3 separate regions of the Homo sapiens genome follow, and all the other regions are linked to region 1. The links come from fine-mapping of genetic effects on gene expression. A gene starts in region 1. Each other region holds a variant in brackets. All regions are shown on one strand. Distances are between the middles of the regions.

The links. PIP is the estimated chance that this variant, and not a neighbour inherited with it, causes the effect.
Region 2: its variant is fine-mapped to the expression of COQ6 in aorta (GTEx, PIP 0.94).
Region 3: its variant is fine-mapped to the expression of COQ6 in sigmoid colon (GTEx, PIP above 0.99).

What each region holds. Positions count from the first base shown.
Region 1 is chr14:73,945,980-73,954,137 of GRCh38, reverse strand. It overlaps COQ6 (coenzyme Q6, monooxygenase), which reads right to left and starts at 3,836. Exons shown (of 12, transcript NM_182476.3): 1 at 3,643-3,836; 2 at 569-703. The coding sequence starts at 3,805. FAM161B (FAM161 centrosomal protein B) reads left to right here and starts at 4,044. Exons shown (of 9, transcript NM_152445.3): 1 at 4,044-4,165; 2 at 7,533-7,852. The coding sequence starts at 4,112. RefSeq lists a silencer at 1,786-2,084 and enhancers at 4,078-4,137, 3,154-4,154.
Region 2 is chr14:73,811,565-73,819,744 of GRCh38, reverse strand. No RefSeq gene overlaps it. Among named protein-coding and RNA genes, the nearest start is that of LINC02274, 14 kb to the left of the region's middle. The variant A/G (reference allele first, on the strand shown) is at 3,937.
Region 3 is chr14:73,998,550-74,006,729 of GRCh38, reverse strand. All of the region lies in intron 3 of ENTPD5 (ectonucleoside triphosphate diphosphohydrolase 5 (inactive)), which reads left to right. It also overlaps the pseudogene RPL41P4. Among named protein-coding and RNA genes, the nearest start is that of ENTPD5, 17 kb to the left of the region's middle. The variant G/A (reference allele first, on the strand shown) is at 4,820.

The sequences.
Region 1 (8,158 bases):
AATGCCAGGTAGTAGTAAGCATTATGAAGAAAAATAGAGCAGGGAAAGGGGCTAGAAAGTGATGGAAGAGTTCAATTTGAGATGGGGTGGTTTCAGACAGGATGGTCTGAGGGAAACATCTAGCAGACCTAATGACAATTTGCTAACTGGTTCCATGTGCACACATTATTCATCTGCACCCCAAGGGAATTTCACGTGTAAGCTCCCTAGCTTGCTAGAAGGCTTGACTCAGGATGAAGAGAGCCCTGCTATTCAAAGTGAATGTTCATGATTAGTTCATATGATTTCAGTTCCACCAATTCATAATGACACAACATCACAAGTGAAGTCAACATGATGGACCCACATGCCTCAAGGATGCATTCCTCAGACAGGGAGTTGAGGCAGTAGCAACTGCAGGGGTCCACATCTTCAACTCTGCCCTAGACTACCAATCCCACCCCCTCTCTCCACCCACCTCAGTGAGCTCCCTCCTTGTCAGATGCTCTGATGACTCTGCCCCATGGGATACACTAGAAAGCTAAGTGGGAAAGGAGATTGGATCTTTGAAGGAGGATCTTCTACTCACTACTGAGAAGCGTTGCAGAGCCAGGGGAAATGGAGCTGACCCTGTTGCTGTAAGTTTCTGACAATTTCTCCAGTACTTTCTTTGGACCTGCTTCGAGCAACAGGATTTTCTTGTCATGAAAGTGAATATCATATCCTTAAAAAAAGAAAATTTATATCATCTTAGGAAAATCAAGAATTTCCTTTCCCATTACCAAGAGAAACAACAGAGTAACCACTTAACCCTTAGAATATGAATTTCTTACAGAGAACATAAACACTATACCCATGCAGAGTCCTAAGCAATAACATATACCACCATTTTAGCTATGAGAACCACCCTGCCCACAACTGTAAGACTTCTCCAAAGACCACTACATGCCACGTGCCAAGAAGCAAATAATGGCAAACACCTAACTAGCAAACAGAATGCCCTAGAAAGGAAAAATGAAGTAAAAAAGTTAGACTACAGTATTTAAACACCAGTTCTTTTCAATCTCCAGAGTATTAAGTCACTAAAAATTACAACTCCTGTTCAAAAGAAAAAGTGGAATAAACAAGCAAAATTCAATGCAGTCTCAAGATTAAACCAAGAATAAAGAATTAGAGTTTATAAAGGCCGGTGCGGTGGCTCACACCTGTAATCCCAGCACTTTGAAGGCCGAGGTGGACAGATCACCTGAGGTCAGGAGTTCAAGACCAGCCTAGCCAACATGGTGAAACCCGTCTCTACTAAAAATACAAAAAAATTAGCCAGGTGTGATGGCGGGCACCTGTAATCCCAGCTACTTGGGAGGCTGAGGCAGGAGAATCGCTTGATCCTGGGAGGAGGAGATTGCACCACTGCACTCCAGCCAGGGCAACAAGAGCAAAATTCTGTCTCAAAAAGAAAGAATTAGAGTTTATAAAAGAAAACGTGAGCCAGGCATGGTGGCTAACGCCTGTAATCTCAGCATTTTGGGAGGCCGAGGTGGGAGGATTGCTCAAGCCTAGGAATTCAAGACCAGCCTGGGCAACATGGCGAGACCCTGTCTCTACAAAAAAAAATTTTTTTTAACTAGCCAGGCATGGTGGCACACCTGAGCTATGTTTGTGCAACTGCAGTCCTACCTGGGGGACAGAGCAAAACCCTGTCTCAAAAACTACAAAAAAGAAAAGAAAAGAAAGAAAGGTCAGGCACAGTGGGTCACACCTATAATCCCAGCACTTTGGGAGACTGAGGTGATGGATCAGTTGAGCTCAGGAGTTCAAGACCAGCGTGGGCAACATGGTGAAACCCCATCTCTACTAAAAACACAAAAATTAGCCAGGTGTGATGGCGGGCGCCTGTGGTCCCAGCTCCTCAGAAGGCTGAGGCAGGAGAATCACTGGAACCTGGGAGGCAGAGGTTGCAGTGAGCTGGGATCCTGCCACTGCACTCCAGCCTGGGTGACAGAGCAGAGACTCTGTCTCAAAAAAAAAAAAAAAAAAAAAAAAAGTTAGCTCCAGCCATACAGACAGTGAGCGGTCCATCTTGGCAGCTTTTGCTGTGGAGGATGGGGCACAGGGACATGCTCTGTAGAGCATGCTCTGTAAAGGGCACTATCTTCTTTTTTTTTTTTTTTTTTTTTTGAGATATCGAGTTTCGCTCTTGTTGCCCAGGCTGGAGTGCAGTGGCGCGATCTCAGCTCACTGCAACCTCCCCCTTCCAGTTTCAAGCGATTCTCCTGCCTCAGCCTCCCAAGCAGCCATGAGAACCACCCTGTTACAGAAGTCTATGATCTGCTTTAAGTTAAATTTTGTGTATCTTGTGAGATGAGGATCATAGGGTGGAACAGCTGCCCTTAGATCAGGGTGTCCAATCTTTTGGCTTCCCCAGGCCACAGTGGAAGAATTGTCTTGGGTCACATATAAAAAAACACTAATATTAATGATAGCTGATGAGCTAAAAAAAAAAAAAAAATCACAAAAAAAAAATCTCATAATGGGCCAAGCATGGTGATTCATGCCTGTAATCCCAGCACTTTGGGAGGAAGGGGCAGGTGGATCACGAGATCAGGAGTTCGAGACCAGCCTGGCCAATATGGTGAAACCCCGTCTCTACTAAAAATACAAAAATTAGCCAGGCATGGTGGCACAAGCCTGTAATCCCAGAGGTTGCAGTGAGCTGAGATCGTGCCATTGTACTCCATCCTGGGCAACAAGAGCGAAACTCCATCTCAGGGAAAAAAAAAAAAGTGAAAAGACTACAAAATGGAAGAAAATATTTGCAAGTCATTTATCAGATAAGGGACTTATACAGAATAAACAAAATAATGGCCAGGCAGGGTTGCTTATGCCGGTAATCCCAGCACTTTGGGAGGCTGAGGCAGGTGGATTGCTTGAGCCCAGAAGTTCCAGACCAGCCTGGGCAACATAGTGAGACCTCGTCTCTACAAAAAAATACAAAAATCAGCCGAGTGGTGGCGCATTCCTGCAGTCCCAGCTATTTGGGAGGCAGAGGCAGGAGGATCAATTCAGCCAGGGAGGTTGAGGCTACAGTGAGCCGTGATCGTGCCACTGCACTGCAGCCTGGGCACAGCGGAAGACCCTGTCTCAAAAAATAAAAATAACTCTTACCACAGTATTCAAGAGACAAACTGCTCAATTAAAAACCGGGCAAAGGGTCTGAATAGGCATTTCTCTAAAGAAGATATACAAATGACCAATAAACATATGAAAGGATATTCAACATCATTAATCATTAGGGAAATACAAGTCAAAACCTGGAGATCCCACTTTACTTACACCCACTAGAATGTCTATAAACAAAAAGACAATGACAAGTACTGTCCAGGATCTGGAGAAACTGGAACTCTCATTTATAAATAACCCCGGGAAGGCCTGTTTTCCCATGAGTAGAACAGACTCTGAACGCCCCTCCCACTTTTGACCCTAATGGACCCTGAAGGACCACACGCATTCCGGCGTGCCCTGGGGTTCCTCTAGGAGGGGAGGGGAGAAGCGTCGCGAGACCTGAGAAATTGTCTTTGGGCAAGTCGTGCTAGGGCTCTCACGGCTCTCATCGTGCCTCCGCGGCCCGGTTTCCGGCCACTAGTAGCCTGGAGAAGGGCTTACCCAAGGCACAGGCCATGGCAGCGCCCACCAGGCCTCCACCCGACACCACCACGTCATACACGGTGTCTGTTGAGGCGCCGGACCACCTGCGCCAGGACACCAGCGGGCCGCTGTGGGGAGCTGCACGCACAGCCCCGCATCGGCTGACAAGCCGGGCCGCCATGGTGCAGACCTGCGCCGTCGCACTCAGAACTCCCGCAGGCCCACCTACGTAGTGCGTCCGGAGCAGAGCACTCCAATCCCGTCCCGCTTCCGCGGCGTCCTCAGAACCGGAAATAAAATGCGCGGAGAAAATAGGCCAATCGGAAAACGAACCTTGCCTCCTCGGGCGGGATGGATCGGAGGCTGCCCTGGAAGCCAACCAGACGCCAAAGCTAGAAAGGGGTGGACCCTGGCCCCGCATAGCTCTCGCTGCCACCGCTGCTGCCACTATCGCTGTCACTGTCGCTGCTGCCTCTGTCCAGCTGAAATGACCGTGGGGAGGCCTGAGGGAGCCCCCGGAGGCGCGGAGGGGAGCCGTCAGGTGAGGAGAGAAAAGAGACTGCCCCCGGGAAAGGAATCCCGGAGAGGAAACTGTTGGGCGTTGCCTTGGAGACAGACAGCAGGGGCGTGTCACGGAGGGGCGTGGGATTAAAATGAGCGTTTAGGGACCAGGAGGCGGACTCTGACTTACAGACCTGAACCTCTCGGACTTTATACGAGGCTCTTGATAGGCAATGTCACTCAGTTTTCGCTTATCCTCTTAGTACTCTATGACCAGTAGTACAATTGTCGTCTCATTTTTGTAGAAGAGAAAACTGAGGCACAAAGAGATTAAGAAAATTGCTCCCCAAATTTGGCCGGGCGTGGTGGTTCACGCCTGTAATCCTAGCACTTTGGGAGGCCGAGGCGGGTGGATCACCTGAGGTCAGGAGTTCGAGACCAGCCTGGCCAACATGGTGAAACTCCGTCTAAAAATTTAAAAAAAAAAAAAAAATTGGCCAGGCGCGCTGGCTCACGCCTGTAATCCCAGCACTTTGGGAGGCCAAGGAAAGCGGATCATGAGGTCAAGAGATCGAGACCAGGCTGGTTTCCATGGCAAAACCCCGTCTCTACTAAAAATACAAAAATTGGCCGGGTGCGGTGGCTTACTCCTGTAATGCAGCACTTTGGGACCTGAGGTCAGGAGTTCAAGACCAGCCTGACCAACATGGAGAAACCCTGTCTCTACTAAAAAAAATACAAAATTAGCTGGACGTGGTGGCACATGCCTGTAATCCCAGCTACTCGGGAGGCTGAGGCAAGAGAATTGCTTGAACCTGGGAGGTGGAGGTTGCAGTGAGCCGAGATTGTGCCATTGCACTCCAGCCTGGGCAACAAGAGCAAAACTCTCTCAAAAACAAAAACAAACAAACAAAAAAATACAAAAAATTATCTGGGCATGGTGGTGCGCGCCTGTAGTCCTAGCTACTCGGGAGGCTGAGGCAGGAGAATCACTTGAACCCGGGAGGTGGAGGTTGCAGTGAGCCAAGATTGCACCACTGCACTCTAGCCTGGCGACAGAGCGAGACTCCGTCTCAAAAAAAAAAAAAAATTAGCCAGGTGTGGTGGCGCGTGCCTCCAGTGATCCACCAGCCAAGGCCTCCCAAAGTGCTGGGATTACAGGCGTGAGCCAGTGCACCTGGTGGACCCCAAACTATTAAAGGCAAAAAGTAGATTGGCAGTTGCTTAGGGCTGGTGGGGTGGGGTGTGGAGGGTTAGGGGAAATAGGGAGTGACCACTAAAGCGTGTGGCATTTCTTTTAAGGGCGATGAAGGTGTTCTAAAATTGTGATGGTAGTTGCACAACTCTGTGTATATACTAAAACCACTGAATTGTACACTTTAAATGAGTGAATATATTGTATAGAAATTATGTCTTAATAAAGTTGTCTTTAAAAGAAAAGAAAAAACGTGCCCAAGATCACACACTGTAGCAGAGCCAGGGCTAGGGTGCATACATATCTCTGACTCTTACCCTGGATTTTAGTAAGCCTGGCTCCTCATCAATCAAGTGTCAATTCAAAATTCCTCCACAATGAAAAATAAAAATCAGCCCAGGACTGAGAAAGTATAACTCAGACTGTCATAGGCATAGATAATGCCAACGGCAAGAGCATCAGGAAACAGTGTTTCTCTCAGGGCCATAACATAGGTGCAAAATTACTAACACCCCTTCTTCCAAAAGGCTTACTGATCAATTACTTACCCACCCTACTTTATTCTTCTCACCTTTTGAATAAGTATTGCCGTTGGGCGGGGCCCAATGGCTCACGCCTGTAATCCCAGCACTTTGGGAGGCCAAGGCAGGCGGATCATTTGAGCTCAGGAGTTGGAGACCAGCCTGGGAAGCATGGTGAAACCCCATCTGTACAAAAAATACAAAAACTAGCCAGGTGTGATGGTGTGTGCTGTAGTCCCAGCTACTCGGGAGGCTGAGGTGGGAGGATCATCACCTGAGCTCAGGAGGTTCAGGCTGCAGTGAGGCATGATTGCACCACTGCACTCCAGAACCTGGGTGACAGAGCAAGAACCTGTCTCAAAAAAAAAAAATTGCTCAGTCATTCGCTTAACTAAATTGTCCCCACTTCATGACAGCACCATTCCAGAGTTGATACCTGGTTCCCTGAATCAATCAGGGAAGCCAACCCTATAAAAATCACACCCTCAACCCTAAGTTCCCTGTGGTTTTCCGTAGTGTCCTGCAGCAAGTTAATAAGCCTAACTGATGTACTGATTACAAGTACATTCCTAATAACCTTAATCTGATGGACTTTATCAACCAAAAAGCTTTCCATAGGCACTCCATCTTTTTATAACCTCACAGTTGTTTATGGTTTTCACAGAATTTATCATCATCTTATATTGTCTGTCTCCTCTTACTACAGTGTAAGCTTCATGAGAGTAAGGACCTTGTTTGTCTTGTTCTCAGCCAAATGCCCAGTGCACATCAGGCACCCAGTAAATATTTTATGAATGAATGGAGTACTGAAAAAGTTAATTGTGTGTCCCACTTCTTAAGACATTGCTCTTCCAGCCAGACCATACTGTCTGTCTTGTTAATCATCCATTCCTTTTTTTTTTTTTTTTTTTGAGACGGAGCATCACTCTTGTTGCCCAGGCTGGAGTGCAGTGGCGCAATCTCATCTCACTGCCACCTCCGCCTCCCGGGTTCAAGCGATTCTCCTGCCTCAGCCTCCCCAGTAGCTGAGATTACAGGCACCCGCCACCACGCCCAACTAATTTTTGTATTTTTGTAGAGACGGGATTTCACCATGTTGGTCAAGCTGGTCTTGAACTCCTGACCTCAGGTGATCCACCTCCCTCGGCCTCCCAAAATGCTGGGATTACAGGCATGAGCCACTGCACCCAGCCATCATCCATTCCTTGACAGAGTGCAAATTAGCTAGAACATGAGGAAAGCAGAGGAGTAGAAATAAGGGAAGGGAGAGAAGGAAGATGAGCAAGAAGTAGGTTAAAACCCAAGTAAGGGAGAGTGTGGCCATCATCATGGGCAGGATTCCTGGAGTGCAGGGGTCAGAAAGCCTGGTGTAGGTGAGGTACTCTGTAAAAGCTTACTGCACTGTATGGCATAGGGAACCAACTTCAGCTCTTCACTTCCCTCTCCATCCCTTCAACCAAGCGCACTTCATAGACCAAGTTGTGAAATTTCTTTAGACCAAGAAACACACCTTATTTTTAAAAATTCCTCCCAAAGTGTTGGGATTACAGGTGTGAGCCAGTGCATCTGGCAGACCCCAAATTCTCCCCAGTCCCTAATATACAGAAGCTTATTCAAAGCGAAATTAAGTTATGATTTGAATACCTTTGAAATTATTGTTTGACCCACAGCCTATTTCTATTCTATTTTAGATATTTCCCCCCGAGTCCTTCGCAGACACAGAGGCAGGAGAGGAGCTGTCCGGGGATGGGCTGGTTTTGCCCAGGGCCAGCAAACTTGACGAGTTCCTCAGCCCAGAGGAGGAGATAGATTCTACTTCTGACTCAACTGGGAGCATTTACCAGAACTTACAGGAACTGAAGCAGAAAGGGAGATGGTGTCTGTTGGAGTCTCTCTTTCAGTCTGACCCAGAGAGTGATGAAAACCTCTCTGAAGATGAGGAGGACCTGGAGAGTTTCTTCCAAGACAAGGACAGGGGGATGGTGCAGGTCCAGTGCCCGCAGGCTCTGAGGTAAGGCACTGCAGCTCCACGGCTGCCTCACTCCACACCTCCACACAGGTCACATCGTGTCTCTGGGCTTCATCTTCCTCTGTAAAGCAAAGAGCACTTCTGCAAGTTGCCATTTACTGAGGCTCTAGCTGAGAATCAGCTTTTGGTTCCAAACAGGTGTTCTGATTCCTCCCCAGGAATCCTGAATTACTTTGGGCAACACTTAGTCCAGTGATGCACTGGAATTAATTAAAGGGCAGCCTTTCCTCAGGTGCAGGGGCTCACACCTGTAATTCCAGCACTTTGGGAGGCTGAGGCAGGCGGATC
Region 2 (8,180 bases), 130 kb after region 1:
CTGTCACCCAGGCTGGAGTGCAATGGTGTGATCTCGGCTCACTGCAACCTCTGCCTCCTGGGTTCAAGCGATTCTTCTGCCTCAGCCTCCTGAGTAGCTGGAATTACAGGTGCCTGCCGCCATGCCCAGCTAATTTTTTGTATTTTTAGTAGAGTTTAGTAGAGTTTAGGGGTTTCACTCTGTTGGCCAGGCTGGTCTTGAACTCCTGACCTTGTGATCTGCCCGCCTCAGCCTCCTAAAGTGCTGGGATTACAGGCGTGAATCACCGCTCCCAACCTGTCTCTACTTAAAAATACAAAAATTAGTTGAGCGTGGTGGTGCAAGCCTGTAATCCCAGCTACTTGGGAGGCTGAGGCAGGAGAATCGCTTGAACCTGGGAGGTGGACGTCGCAGTGAGCCGAGATTGTGCCACTGCATCCTAGCCTGGGCAACAGAGCAAGACTCTGTTTCAAAAAAAAAAAAAAAAAGATATATTGAAGTTTTAACCCCTTAACCCAGTACCTCAGAGTCTGACCTCATTTGGAAATAGGTCATTGCAGATGTAATGAGGTAAGGTTAGGTTACACTGGAGTAGGATGGACCCCTAATCCAACATGACTGGTGTCATAAGAAGATGGCCATGTGAAGACAGAGACCCACAGGGAGAACAGGACGCGGGGAGCCTGGACTGCTTCTGCAGCAAGCCAAGGCAAACTACCAGCAGCTAGGAAGAGGCAAGGGAGGGTTCCGTGACCTCTATCAGAGGAAACGCGACCTTGCCAACACCCTGATTTTGGACCTGTAGCCTCTAGAACTGCGAGACAATGAATTTCTGTTGTTTTACGCCACCCAGTTTGTTGTATTTTGTTATGGCAGCCCAGGAAAACTAACACAGCGTCCCAAAGCTGAGGCGCTATCAGCTTGCACACAAAAGAAGTTTGTAGTCTTTACTTGAAGGGTTGTTTCCATTAAGAACAACAACAACAACAAAAATACCTTTAAATTCCCTGGGATTCCAATGCTGTTCCCGAGAGTGCTGGTTTCCTGATGGAGTCTGGTGCTGGCTCTAGGACCTCTTACTCTGGTGAAATGGACTCAGCTTCCTTGAGAAGCACCTGGAAATGTCATTTTCAGGTCCTATGTGAGACTCAATTAATGGATAAATTGGGCTTCTTTTTTCCAGGGCTTTGTTTTTTTTTTTTACTTTTTTTTTAGAGACGGAGTCTCGCTCTGTCTCCCAGGCAGGAGTACAGTGGCACGATCTCGGCTCACTGCAACCTCTGTCTGCCGGGTTCAAGCAATTATCCTGCCTCAGCCTCCCGAGTAGCTGGGATTACCGGCGCATGCTGCCACGTTTGGTTAGTTTTTTGTATTTTAGTAGAAACGGGGTTTCACCGTGTTGCTCAGGCTGGTCTCAAACTCCTGAGTTTAGTTAATCTGCCCACCTCGGCCTCCCAAAGTGCCGGGATTACAGGCGTGAGCCATCATGCCCAGCCTGTTTTTTTTACTTTTTTAAGAAATAAATTATTATTATTTTTTTGGGGGGGGCGGGTAGCTGGGCGCCGTGGCTCATGCCTGTAATCCCAGCACTGTGAGAGGCCAAGGCTGGTGGATCACTTGAGGTCAAGAGTTCGAGACCATCCTGGCCAACATGGCGAAACCCCGTCTCTACTAAAAACATAAAAATTAGCCAGGCATGGTGGCAGGTGCCTGTAATCCCAGCTACTCTGGAGGCTGAGGCAGGAGAATCACTTGAACCCGGGAGACGGAGGTTGCAGTGAGCTGAGATCACGCCACTGCACTCCAACCTGGGTGACACAAGGAAACTCAGTCTCAGAAAAAAAAAAAAAAAGAAAGAAAGAATTTTATTTTTTTAAATAGAAATAGAGACAGGGTCTCAATATGTTGCCCAGGCTCGTTTTGAACTCTTGGGCTCAAGCAATCCTTCTGTCTCAGCCTCCCAAAGCCTCCCAAAGTGTTGGGATTACAGGCATGAACCACTGCACCCAGTATATATATATATACATACATACATATACACACACACACACACACACACACATATATATATATACACATATACATATATATATACACATATATATATATTTTGGAGATAAGGTTTCAGTCTGTCCACCCAGGCTTAGGTATAGTGGGGTGATTACAGCTCATTGCAGTGTCAAACTTGTGGACTCGAGTGATCCTCCCACCTCAGCCTCTCGAGTAGCTGGCTGGGACTACAAATGTGCACCACCACACCCAGCTAATTTTTTAATTTTTTTATAGAGATGGGTCTCAATTTTTTGCCCAGGCTGGTCTTAAGCTCCTGGCCTCAAGCAATCCTCCTGTTAAGGGAGATAACAGACATGAGCCACTGCACCCAGCCCTTTTTTCTAGTTTTTAAAAGACACTGAAGAACTTACACTTCCATATATGTGATAGTCTTTCTCTTTCTTTCATTTATTCATTCAACAAACTTTACAGCACACCTACTGTGTGTCAATGGTGGATGGTCTCTGCCCTCACGGAGTCTGCAGCCTGGGGCGCCTTCTCATTACTGCACCTGTGCTGCTGCCGCCTCTATGCCTTTCTAGGCCTCCTCACTGAATAATGTCTGCCTAACTCATAGCATGTTCCCGGTGGTTACAACCTCCACCTTTGCAGGCGAATATGAGTTTTTGGACCATCCAGAGTCCTTCTGAACCATGTCTGAGGAATAAAATGTATGATTAAGCAGGAAAAAAAAAGATTAAGTCCTGATTTTTTCCTCTAAAAACCTCAGGAAAAAAAACCCAAAATATTTTAGTGGCAGTATCAACGGGATACATTTATAGCTCATAAGATGATGCTGTAGAAGAACAATGTTATTCAGATATAAAAAATGACTTATTACGTCATGGTCATAGAAGGAGAACCTTTTAAGTCAAGCCCAGGGTTCTCAAGAGGCAGCCTTTCTCTCATGTTTTTTTTTCTTTGTGTTATTCTTTCCTCTAGATAGAGGCGCGGGGTGAAGGGAGCGGTATCTTTCATCTCTTCTTTCTTTCTCTTGAGTACACAGATGGTGACTGGTGCATGGCTCAAACCTTTCATAGCTGCCAGGGCTTTCCAGACTCTTGATTGCCCTCATTATTTTTCCTGCCTTGTCCAGGGTTCTCCTTCCAAGGTCATCTTCTGGTTGTGATGTAAGCCTCATCACAGCTCCCATAACACATCACAAGACACATACACTACAGACACTCACAAAGCTGAACTGCAAGAGAAAACAGAAAGCAAGCTGGGCTTTCCATTCACATAGGAAAGCGTCTCAAGATGCCTGGGAAAGTGACTCCAGGGCTTCTGACCCAGTGAACTGAACCTACTTTCCTTCTTTTCTTTTCTTTTCTCTCTCTCTCTCTCTCTCTCTCCCTTCCTCCCTCCCTCTCTCTCTCTCTTTTTCTTTTCTTGAGACAGGGTCTCGCTCTGCCACCCAGGCTGGAGTGCAGTGGTGCAATCATAATTCACTGCAGTCTTTAACTCCTGGGCTCAAGCAATCCTCCCACTTCGGCCTCCCCAAGTGTTGGGATAACAGGCATGAACTGCCATACCCGGTCATTACTATTTCTTGACGCAAGTGTTGGTTACACAGAGAGCTGCTTTGTAATTATTTGTTAAATTGTCCAAATATGTTCTGTGCATTTTTTCTTTTCTTTTCTTTCCTTTCTTTCTTTCTTTTCCTTTCCTTCTCTTTCCTTCTCCTTCCTTCGCCTTCCTTCCTTCTTTCCTTCCTTCCTTCCTTTCCTTTCTTTCTTTCTTTTCTTCTTTTTCTTTTTTGAGACAGGGTCTTGCCCTATTGCCTAGGCAGGAGTGCAGTGGCACAACCACGACTCACTGCAGCTTCAACCTCCCAGACTCAAGCCATCCTCCCACCTCAGCCTCCCAAGTTTCTGGGACTACAGGCACATGCCACCACACCCGGCT[A/G]ATTTTTTATTTTTTGTAGAGACAAGGTCTCGCCATGTGGCCCAGGCTGTTCTCAAACTCCTGGGCTCAAGTGATTCTCCCATGCCAGCTTCTGCAAGTGCTGGGGTTACAAGTGTGAGCCACAATGCCCAGCCTGAGCCTAGTTGCTAAGTCTAGAATATTCCTTCCTGGTGTGTGGACATAGCAAAGGTTAAATTCAGTGTTCCATAAGGCAATTGTATATCTGATGAGCACAATTTGTTATATCAGAAGACCACCATCTCTGCAAATCAGGAGGCTTTATTCACTCATTCATTCATTCATTTATTCACCAGATATGTATGAAGTGACAGACACTTTAATAGGCAATAGGAAATCTGAAGCTGGAAACACAGTCTGTGCCCTTGAGGGGTTCATGGCAGGGAGACAGATCTAAATAGAATCTGGTGTGATATGGCCTGAAGGTAGCCATGACTTCTTCGTCCACCCTTCTTCCTCTTTTTTTTTTTTTTTTTTTGATTGAGTCGGAGTCTTGCTCTGTTGCCCAGGCTGGAGTGTAATGGCACGATCTCGGCCCACTGCACCCTCTGCCTCCTGGGTTCAAGCAATTCTCCTGCCTCAGCCTCCCAAGTAGCTGGGATTACAGGCGCCCGCCACCATGCTCAGCTAATTTTTATATTTTTAGTAGAGACCGGGTTTCACCATGTTGGCCAGGGTGGTCTCGAACTCCTGACCTCGTGATCCGCCTGCCTCGGCCTCCCAAAGTGCTGGGATTACAGGCATGAGCCACTGCACCTGGCATGGTTTTTTTTTTTTTTGAGATGGAGTCTTGCTCTGTCGCCCAGGCTGGAGTGCGGTGGCAGGATCTTGGCTCACTGCAACCTCTGCCTCACAGGTTCAAGTGATTCTCCTGCCTCAGCCTCCCGGGTAGCTGAAACTACAGGCCTGTGCCACTATGCCCAGCTAATTTTTGTATTTTTAGTAGAGACAGGGTTTCATCATGTTAGCTAGGCTGGTCTCGAACTCTTGACCTCAAGTGATCCACTTACCTTGGCCTCCCAAAGCGCTAGGATTACAGGCGTGAGCCACCACACTCAGCCTTCAACCACACTTCTAAGCCCTGTAGATCCAGCCCAGCATCCAAATTACCCGCTCCAAAGGCATGAGCAGGAAAAGGAGGGGCAGACATCACACATCACCAACAAAACTTCCCAATCATCGCCTTTTAAAAACATCTCTGCTTCCTTCCCCAAAGTGCCCTCTCCCATTGCAGTTGCTGCACCTCAGCTCTCATCTCATCCCATCCCAAAAACTAAGATCTTAGCTTTTTCTCCCCTCCTCACATCACCCCTCCACTTGTAACCTGGTTTAGTGAAACAAGACTTGGCCCCAAGCATCTCTCAAGATTGCCTCTAAGGGGCCTCAATTCAAAGTGGTTTGGTGTTGCTGCACTATGACGTGAAAGCCCAGGGGAAGCCTGGAGTCAGAGGAAGGGCGATTCTCAGAAGCCAGACTAATTTTTGTAGTGGCTGCACCTACCCTTGATTTACTGAATCAGAATCTAAACCAAATTCCGTCTCTTTTTCTCTCTCTCTTTTTCTACGTGTTGAAAAAGTTGACTGGTCTGTTCTGCAGGACAAAGTTTCTCACAGTCTGAATGTTGCTGATCACAATATTGCTGTATTTCGTAGTAGTTAGATTTTGAGGTTAAAGTGGGTTCACGTGTGATTATTTTGGCCACACTACTTTTAGGGTTGCCAGGCTTAGTAAATAAAAATACAAGATGCCCAGTTAAGTTTTAATTTCAGATAATGAGCTTTTTTTTTTTTTTTTAATAGAGTCTTGCTGTATTGCCCAGGCAGGAGTGCAGTGGCGATCTCGGCTCACCGCAACCTCTGCCTCCCAGGCTCAAGCGATCCTCCCACCTCAGCCTCCCAGGAAGCTGGGACCACAGGTGCGCACCACCTCGCCCGGCTACTTTTTTAATTTTTTGTAAAGGTGAGGTCTTGGTATGTTGCCCAGGCTGGTCTTGAACTCCTGGGCTCAAGCAATCTGCCTGCCTCGACCTCCCAAAATGCTGGGATTATAGGTGTGAGTCACCGCGCCCGGTCCCTGAACTTTTTTTTTGGGGGGGTGGGGGCAGACAAAGTCTCACCCTGTTGCCCAGGCTGGAGTGCAGTGGCGTGATCTCAGCTCACTGCAACCTCCAAGTCCCTGGTTCAAGCGATTCTCCTGCCTCAGCCTCCTGAGTAGCTGGGATTACAGGCACGTGCCACTACACCCAGCTAATTTTTATATTTTTAGTAGAGACGGGGTTTCACCATGTTGGCCAGGATGGTCTCGATCTCCTGACCTCGTGATCCGCCCACCTCGGCCTCCCAAAGTGCTAGGATTACAGGTGTGTGCCACCATGCCCAGCCTGGTCCTTGAACATTTTTCAGCATATGTATGTCTCATGGAACGTTTGGGATATATTTATACTAAAATTTATTTGATATTTATTTGAAATCCAAATTTAACTAAACATTGTGTGTTTTATCTGGAAACCCAAACTACTTCACAAGATGTATTGTGTCCATTCGTCAGGAGCTGAATATCTGGCTCTCGCTCTTTTTGCGATGTTAGAAGCTGTTGATGATCATGGCCTAGACTGATTATTTCCCTAGAGGCTGTAAAATGATGATATTCTAATTCTATCTTTTTTCTTCATTTCTTAGCTGGAATATGTCTATAAAGAGGAACTTTTCCTTGTCAACTATTTGGATTCCTTGGTTATTTTCATACAGAGAAAGCAGGCTACATGCTTAACTCTGTCCTTTTCTTTACCAGTTTTCAGAATAATTAATTGGTTCCTTAGAACTTGCCAAAAGTGACCAATGGGTTGTGTTCTTGACTTTAAAAGTATCATTATGATCTCAGATTTTTTTCGTTTTTTTTTTTTTTGAGACGGGGTCTCACTCTGTAGCCCAGGCTGGAGTGCAGTGGTGCGATCTCGGCTCACTGCAACCTCTGCCTCCCGGGTTCACACCATTCTGTAGTCCCAAGTAGCTGGGACTACAGGTGCCCGCCACCATGCCCGGCTAATTTTTGTATTTTTAGTAGAGACAGGGTTTCACCATGTTAGCCAGGATGGTCTCGATCTCCTGACCTGGTGATCTGCCTGCCTCAGCCTCCCAAAGTGCTGGGATTACAGGTGTGAGCCACCACGCCAGGCCGAACTCAGGTATTTTGACATGTATATATTTTGACCCATTGCAGTTGTTATTCTTTCAGACACTCAAATTGTTCCATATTTGGCCAATGAGAGTCTCTTGAACTTGGCTATTGGGTCCTTTTGATGCCACCCCAACGGTCTTTGTTAGGTTCTTTGCTTTCTGGTGTAACAAGATGTTCCAGAATCATCTTAAGCATTTCTTAGCTCTGGCATGGAATTAGACATTTCTCTTAGGAACTCTTTTAGTAGGAAATGATATTTAGAGATCAAACATTTCCTACTCCCCAATTTAAAATTACAACCCCCTGCAACAAACACATAGACCTATGTTCCCTGAGATCCCCTTACCTGATCTACTTTTTTCCATGCGGTTATCACCTTCTAACATATGAATTTAATTATGTTTATTGCTTGTCTCTCAGCATGAGACTGTAAGCTTCTCAAGAGCAGAGACTTGTTCACTGTCTGATACATAGCACAATAGCAGACACTCAATAAATACCCCTTTAATGAGACAATGACTATATATCACCAAATTACTTTTTTTTTTTTTTTTGAGACAGCGCCTTGTTCTGTTGCCCAGGCTGGGGTGCAGTGGTGCGATCTTGGCTCACTGCAACCTCCGCCTCCTGGATTCACGTGATTCTCATGCCTCAGCCTCCCGAGTAGCTAGGACTGCCACCATGCCCCGCAAATTTTTGTATTTTTAGTAGAGACAGGGTTTCGCCATGTTGGCCAGGCTGGTCTCGAACTCCTGACTTCAAGTGATCTGCCCGCCTCGGCCTCCCAAAGTGCTGGGATGACAGGCATGAGCCGCTGCACCTGGCCCCAAATTACATTTTTGAAGTGTTCATTCTCACTTCTGGTGGAGAATGTATTTGGGAGGGACTGTTGTGAAGCAGGGAGGCCACTAAAGAGGCTTTTTCAGTTGTCCAGGGGAAAAATGAGGGTGGCTTAGACTAAGAATGTGTCTGCGGAAATGTAAAGAAAAGTGAGGTAGAGACAAGAGGTATTTAATATAACTGACTAAACATGGTGATGGGCTGGATGT
Region 3 (8,180 bases), 53 kb before region 1:
TCCTGTAGTCTAGCTAGTCAGGAGGCTAAGGCAAGAGGATCATTTGAGCTCAGGAGGTGAAGGTTGCAGTGAGCTGTGTCTGCACCACTGCACTTGAGCCTAGGTGATAAAGCAAGACATCTTCTCATTTAAAAAAAAAAAAAAAAGGGCCGGGTGTGGTGGCTCACACCTGTAATATCAGCACTTTGGGAGGCCGAGGCGGGCGGATCACGAGGTCAGGAGATCGAGACCATCCTGGCTAACACAGTGAAACCCCGTCTCTGCTAAAAATACAAAAAATTAGCCGGGCGTGGCGGCGGGCACCTGTAGTCCCAGCTACTCGGGAGGCTGAGGCAGGAGAATGGTGTGAACCCGGGAAGCGGAGCTTGCAGTGAGCCGAGATTGTGCCACTGCACTCCTGCCTGGGCAGCAGAGCGAGACTCCGTCTCAAAAAAAAAAAAAAAAAGGCTTGGCGAGGTGGCTAATGCCTGTAATCCCAGCACTTTGGGAGTCCAAGGTAGGTGGATCACCTGAGATGATCACCAGCCTGACTAACATGGAGAAACCCCGCTTTGTCTCTACTAAAAATACAAAATTTGCTGGGCTTGGTGGTGTATGCCTGTAATCCCAGCTACTTTGGAGGCTGAGGCAGGAGAATCTCTTGAACCTGGGAGGCAGAGGTTGTGGTGAGCCAAGATCATGCCATTGCACTCCAGCCTGGGGAACAAGAGTAAAACTCCATCTCAAAAAAAACAAAAAGGTATTTAAATTTCTTTTCACCTTTAGAAACAAGAAGTACATTGTGTGAGTTGTAGTTTTTCTGACTTTAATTCTTTTCCTTAAGTAAAATATTAGGACTATAACAGAAGATGGAAGTTAAAAGTCAAGTCAGCATTGTTGTTCATTTTGTTTGTTTATTTGTTTTGTTTTTTATTTATTTTTTTGAAATGGAGTCCTGCTCTGTCTCCCAGGCTGGAGTGCAGTGGCATGATCTCAGCTTACCGCAACCTCTGCCTCCTGGGTTCTAGCGATCCTCCTACCTCAGCCTCCCAAGTAGCTGGGATTACAGGCGTGCACCACACACCCAGCTAATTTTTGTATTTTTAGTAGAGATGGGGATTCACCATGTTGGCCAGACTGGTCTTGAACTCCTGACCTCAGGTGATCCACTCCCCTCAGCCTCCCGAAGTGCTGGGATTACAGGCGTGAGCCACCGCACCTGGCCAGTTGTTCATTTTTAAGAGTTAATAGCAGCCGATGTGATGGCTCACACCTGTAATCCTAGCATGTTGAGAGGCCAAGGTGGAGGATTGCTTGAGGCCAGGAGTTTGAGAGCAATCTGACAAACATAGTGAAACCCTGCCTATATTTCTTTTCTTTTTTTTTGAGACCGAGTCTTGCTCTCTCACCCAGGCAGGCATGAGCCACCACGCCTGGTTTATTTCTTTTTTTCTTTTTTTCTTTTTTTCTTTTTTTTTTTTTTTTGAGACTGAGTCTCACCCTATCGCCCAGGCTGGAGTGCAATGGTGCGATCTCAGCTCACTGCAACCTCCATCTCCCGGGTTCAAGCAATTCTCCTGCCTCAGCCTCCCGAGTAGCTGGGATTACAGGCATGTCCCATCATGCCCAGCTAACCTGGCTTATTTCTATATATTATTTTTTTCTAAGAATAAACAAATGAACAAAAACAGTTAATATCATTGGAATAACATGCAGGTCCTAAAATAAGAAGTATGTAAGATGTGTTTATTGAAATATATATATGGTATACTGGAAAAAAAACCCCACAAAATATTACACAAATACTGGTTACAGCTTACAGTAGCCAGCCTCCAAGATGCCCCCCAGTGATGCTCACCTCCTAATATTCATGCCTTTGTGTAGTCCCCTTTTACAGTTCGTCAGGGTTGGTCTGTATGAGCATTAGAATATAGGGATATGATAGTGTATGACTTCCAAAACAAAGTCATAAAAGACATTACTGCTTCTGCCCTGCTCTTCTTGGATTGACTGCTCTGGAGGAAGCCAGCCACTGGGTTATAAAGACATTCAAGCAGCCCTATGGAGGATCTACACGGGGAGCTACTGAGACTTCCTGCCCACAGCTGGCATCAACTTGCCAACCATTGAGTGAGCCATCTTGGAGGTGGGTCTTCCAGGCCTAGTCAAGCCTTCAGATTGACTGCAGCCCCAGCCTACATCTTGACTGCAATCTCATGAGAGCCTCAGAGCCAAAACTGTCTAATTAAACCACTCTCAGAGTCCCAAACCACAGAAATAATGAGATAGGCCGGGCGCAATGGCTCACACCTGTAATCTCAGCACTTTGGGAGGCCAACGCAGGTGGATCACCTGAGGTCAGGAGTTTGAGCCTGGCCAATATGGCGAAACCCCGTCTCTACTAGAAATACAAAAATTAGCCGGGTGTGGTGGGGGGTGCCTGTAGTCCCAGCTACTTCGGAGGCTGTGACAGGAGAATCACTTGAACCCAGGAGGCAGAGGTTGCAGTGAGCCAAGATCACGCCACTGCACTGCAACCTGGGCAATAGAGGGAGACTCTGTCTCAAAAAAATAAAAAAGGGATGAGATAATAAATATTTTTATTGCTTAATACATGTATTTATTTACTTAATTAATTTATTTTTTGAGACAGGGTCTTGCTCTGTCACCCATGCTGGAGTGCAGTGGCATGATTCTAGCTCACTGCAGCTTCGAACTCCTGGGCTTAAGTGATCCTTCTGCCTCAGCCTCCCAAGTAGCTGGGACTGCAAGTGTGCACTGCCATGCCTGGCTAATTTTTTCATTAAAAAAAAATTTTTTTTAATAGGGTTTTGCTGTGTTGCCCAGGCTGGTCTCAAACTCCTGGGCTCCAGTGATCCTCCTGCCTTAGCCTCCCAAGTGTTGGGATTTACAGGCATGAGGCACCATGCCCAGCCAATTTTTTTTTTCTTTTTTTCTTTTTCTTTTTTTTTGATTCTTCAGCTAAGACAGCAGAAGAGATGATTTATCGTATGGTTGTTATACTCGGCCACAAGTAAACACAGAAATAGTCCAGAATGTCCCAGGTCCAGGGCAGAGGACCAACATGGGCAGTTTTGGTTATGAGCAAGGTGGGTCTCAGAGGTGATCAGCGATCAGAGGGCGGTGAAGTTCTGGATCCATTGAGACAAGCTCTACACAATAGCATGCAGTCCCACAACTTGTACCAGCATCCCCAGCATCTGGCATTCCATGTTTCTGCTCCTGTGTGGCCTCCACGGTGCAACAAGCTAGCGGTTTACTTGGACCTCTGCCTCATCTTTCTTCTTTTGTGCTTCAGACTGCACATTCGCTTTTTCCTCCACTTAGCTCTCATGATGCAGAGGTTTCCAAGAAAATGGCGCTAAGGCTGAGAGAAACCCTAGCCCATTTCTATTGTCAGTTTTTATTGAATTCCACCTTGGACGCTCTTCTAGGTTCTTGGGTTACACCAGTAAACAAAAAGATTTCTGCTCTTGAGGAGCTTATATTCTATCAGAGGAACACAGACAATAAATATCAGTAAGCTTTCCAGTATGTTAGAATGTGATAAGTGGTGTGGAAAAAAGAAAAGTGGATCAGAGTAAGGGGAGTTGAGAAAGCAGGTAGAGGTGGGAGCATGTGAAGGTGAGAGGTTATAGTATTAAGTAGATCTCAATAAGAAAGTGATTTTTAAACAAGTATTTGAAGGAGTTGCAGGAATTCATCAAGTGGATATATAGGAAAAGAATTTCTAGGCAGTGGGGACAGCTTAGAGCGAAGGCCCTAAGGCAGGGGCATGAGTGAATAAGCGCAGAGGTCAGTGTTGGGGGAGAGTAAGGTGAAAACTATTAGTAGATGGGGTCAGAGATGTAGTGGGGATGGAAGCAGAAGGCTATTTTCAGGACCTTGTTTCTCTGAAATGGGGAGCCAGTGCTGGATTTTGCATAAAACAGAGACATACTCTAATTTATATTAAAGGATGACTTTGGTTGTTTGTTAAAAGGAGACAAACTCCAGGGGAGTGAGGATAAAAGCAGGAAGATCTGTTAGGACAATATTAGCAAATCACATGAAAGATGATAGTGGCTTGGGCGAAGGTGGTAGCAATGGAAGTGGTCAGAAATGGTCGGATTCTGGAAATGTATTCAACAGCAGGAAATTAAGATCTTCAAAATCTCTTGATTAGCTGGGCACAGTGGCTCAACCCTGTTATCCCAGCTATTCAGGAGGCTGAGGCTAGAGGATTGCATGAGGCCAGGAGTTCAAGACCAGCCTGGGTAACATAGTGAGACTCCATCTCTACATAAATAAATAAATAAGCTCTTGATTTTATGTAAGAAGGTCAGACTGCTGTAAGACTTTCACATCCTGATGGAAGTCTCACTTTCCAGCCTCATCTCAGACCATTCTCTGCTCTACACTCGCCTCCCCACTCCCATATCTGTCTTTTCCAAGAGCCCTGTTAGATAATCCTTCTTGGGTGGCCTACTAGTTAAGACTGTGGCTCTGGAATTAAACCATCTGGGTTTGATTTCTGGCTCATTTCATTTAACTACGATGTGGTCTTAAGATACTTAGTTTCTCTAAGCTCAGTTTTCTCATTTATAAAATGGGAATCTTAATAATAGCACCTAACTCACAGAGCAGTAATGTGAGATTAAATGAGCTAATCTATGTAGAATACTTAACATCATGCTTGGCATCTACTAAGATCTCCGTAAATATTGGTTACTATTTTTTTAAAATCTCAGATTATGTTTCTTTGACCACAATCTTTATCCTCTGCATTAAATGCTAACCCTCTTCTTCTATATCCTCTTTCACTAGTTTTCTACTTTTT[G/A]TTTCTCAAATTCATATAAAAAATTCTTGAGGACATTGGCTTTTAATTATTATTATTTGAGACAGGGTCTCACTCTGTCGCATAGGCTGGAGTACAGTGGTGCCGTGCAATCACAGTTCACCTCAGCCTCCACTTCTCAGGCTCAAATGATCCTCATACCTCAGCCTCCTGAATAGTTGAGACTACAGGTGTGTACCACCATGCCTGGCTTTTTTTTTTTTTTTTTTTTTTTTTTTTTTTTTTTGAGATGAGGTCTTGCTCTCTCGCCAGGCTGGAGTGTAGTGGCATGATCTCGGCTCACTGCAACCTCCGCCTCCCAGGTTCAAGCGATTCTCCTGCCTCAGCCTCCCGAGTAGCTCGGACTACAGGTGCCCGCCACCATGCCTGGCTAATTTTTTTCTTTTTTTTTGGGATGGAGTCTTGCTCTGTTGCCCAGGCTGGAGTGCAGTGGTGCAATCTCGGCTCACTGCAAGCTCGGCCTCCCAGGTTCACGTCATTCTCCTGCCTAACCCTCCCGAGTAGCTGGGACTATAGGCACCCGCCATCACACCCAGCTAATTTTTTGTATTTTTAGTAGAGACGGGATTTCACCGTGTTAACCAGGATGGTCTCGATCTCTTGACCTCGTGATCCGCTTGCCTTGGCCTCCCAAAGTGCTGGGATTACAGGCATGAGCCACTGCGCCCAGACACACCCTGCTAATTTTTTAATATTTTGTAGAGATAGCATTTCACTATGTTGCCCAGGCTAGTCTCAAACTCTTGGGGTCAAGCAATCCTCCCACTTTGGCCTCCCAAAGTGCTAGGATTACAGGCATGAGTCATCATACCTGGCCTCGCTATTTTTAATTTTTATACGGATAGGGTCTCACTGTGTTGTCCAAGCTGGACTTGCACTCCTTGGCTGAAGTGACCCTCTTTCCTCAGCCTCCTGAGTACCTGGGACTATGGTCACGTGCCACTCCATATGGCTCTTGAGGAAATTTTTAAATGAAATCAAACGATACTTTTCCTATCATCTTTTTCTAATCTCTCTGGTCTTTATACACATCTGGTCTCTATTATTTCTGTAGTTATTTCTGTCCATTTTTCATGATTGCTTACATGTCATTTCATTTTTTTTGTTGTTGTTTTGAGACAGGTTCTTGCTCTGTTGCCCAGGCTGGAGTGCAGTGGCATGATCTCGGCTCCCTGCAGCCTCGCCTCCCAGGTTCAAGCAATTCTCCCACCTCAGCCTCCTGAGTAGCTGGGATTACAGGCACACCACCACGCCTGGACAATTTTTGTATTTTTAGTAGAGATGGGGTTTCACCATATTGGCCAGGCTGGTCCTGAACTCTTGACCTCAGGTGATCCACCCTCCTCGGCCTCCCAAAGTGTTGGGATTACAGGCGTGAGCCACTGTGCCCAGCCATTTCTTTTATATATGCTTATATATATATTTTTTAAATTGAGACGGGGTTCAGTCTTGTCACCCAGGCTGGAGTACAGTGGTGCGATCTCAACTCACAGCAACCTCCACCTCCCAGGGGGCTCAAGCAATCCTCCCACCTCAGCCTCCCAAATAGCTGGGACTACAGGTGCATTCCACCATGCCTGACTAGTTTTTGTATTTTTGGTGGAGATGAGGTTTCATCATGTTGCCCAGGCTGGTCTCGAACTCCTGAGCTCAAGCAATCTGCCTGCCTTGGCCTCCCAAAGTGCTAGGATTACAGACGTGAGCCACTGTGCCTGGTCTCAAATGTCTTTTCTTGATGCGTTTCCAAATCCTCTAGGGAGTTAGTCCTGTGTTTTTGTTCCTTTACCTTTTTTTTTTTTTTTTTTGAGATGGAGTCTCGCTCTGTCGCCCAGGCTGGAGTGCAGTGACGCGACCTCGGCTAACTGCAACCTCCGCCCCCTGGGTTCAAGTGATTCTCCTGCCTCAGACCCCTGAATAGCTGGGATTACAGGTGCATGCCACCATGCCTGGCTAATTTTTAAATTTTTGGTAGAGATGGGGTTTCATCATGTTGGTCAGGCTGGTCTGGAACTCCTGACCTCATGATCCGCCCGCCTTGGCCTCCCCAAGTGCTGGGATTACAGGTGTAAGCTACTGCGCCCGGCCCTTTACCTTTTTTTTTGAGACGGAGTCTCGCCCTGTTGCCCAGTCTAGAGTGCAGTGGCTTGATCTTGGCTCACTGCAACCTCCGCCTGCCAGGTTCAAGCAATTCTCCTGCCTCACCCTCCTGAGTAGCTGGGATTACAGGCACGCGCCACTGCGCCTGGCTAATTTTTGTATATTTAGTAGAGACGGTTTTACCATGTTGGTCAGTCTGGTCTCAAACTCCTGACCTCATGATCCGCCCACCTTGGCCTCCCAAAGTGCTGGGATTACAGGAGTGAGCCACCGTGCCCGGCCTACCTTTGTTTTTTTTGGGGGGGTGGGGGGCAGAGTCTTACTCTGTCACCCAGGCTGGGGTGCAATCCTGTGATCTTGGCTCACTGCAACCTCTGCGTCCTGAGTTCAAGCAATTCTCGTTCCTCAGTCTCCTGAGTAGTTGGGATTACAGGCGCATGCCACCACACCTGGCTAATTTTTGTATTTTTAGTAGATATGGGGTTTCACCACGTTGGCCAGGCTGGTCACGAACTCCTAACTTGAGGTAATCCACCCACTTTGGCCTCCCAAAGTGCTGGGATTACAGGCGTGAGCTACTGCGCCTAGCTTCTTTACCATTTTTATGCTTAGTTTAAAAAGTTACGGTTATTTTTATATATGTCTGCCACCTCTGCCAGACTCAGCATCTTGAATAAAAAGATCTGTTTTCCTCACCTTTACTTTTCTGGCACCTAGCAGTTAGTAGGCATCAGTAAGCATTAGTAGAATTAAGCAATTGAGTGGTCCTGACAAGGCTCCTGACTGCAGTCCTTACATGTAACTACCAGATTCGTATTTGGATACTCCCTAGTTCAATATCTTCAGTGGCTTCCTATCACCTGCAGAGTAAAGTCCAAACTCCTTAGCTGAGTATTTGGTGTCCTCTACTATGTGACCTCAATCTATCTCTTCAACTTTATTTTCTACTATAGTTGGTCAAACTGATCCATTCACTGTTCCTCAGGGGCCCCCATCCCTTTTCCACATCCGTGTCTTGATTCATGGTTTTATTCCTGAAAAGCACTCCTTGCCTGTCCTAATTCATTTCCCTCCTCAGGACCCTCCTCAGATACGACCTTTTTCACAGAGCCTTCTCCATCATCCCAGCTTTGAAGTTTCAGAGCATAGTAACTGTGCTGCTTGACACATTTTCACTTTATAGAGGTAATTTATGGACATGTATTTTTTTTTTCCAACTTAGTATAGTTTCTTAGGGTTTCTTAAA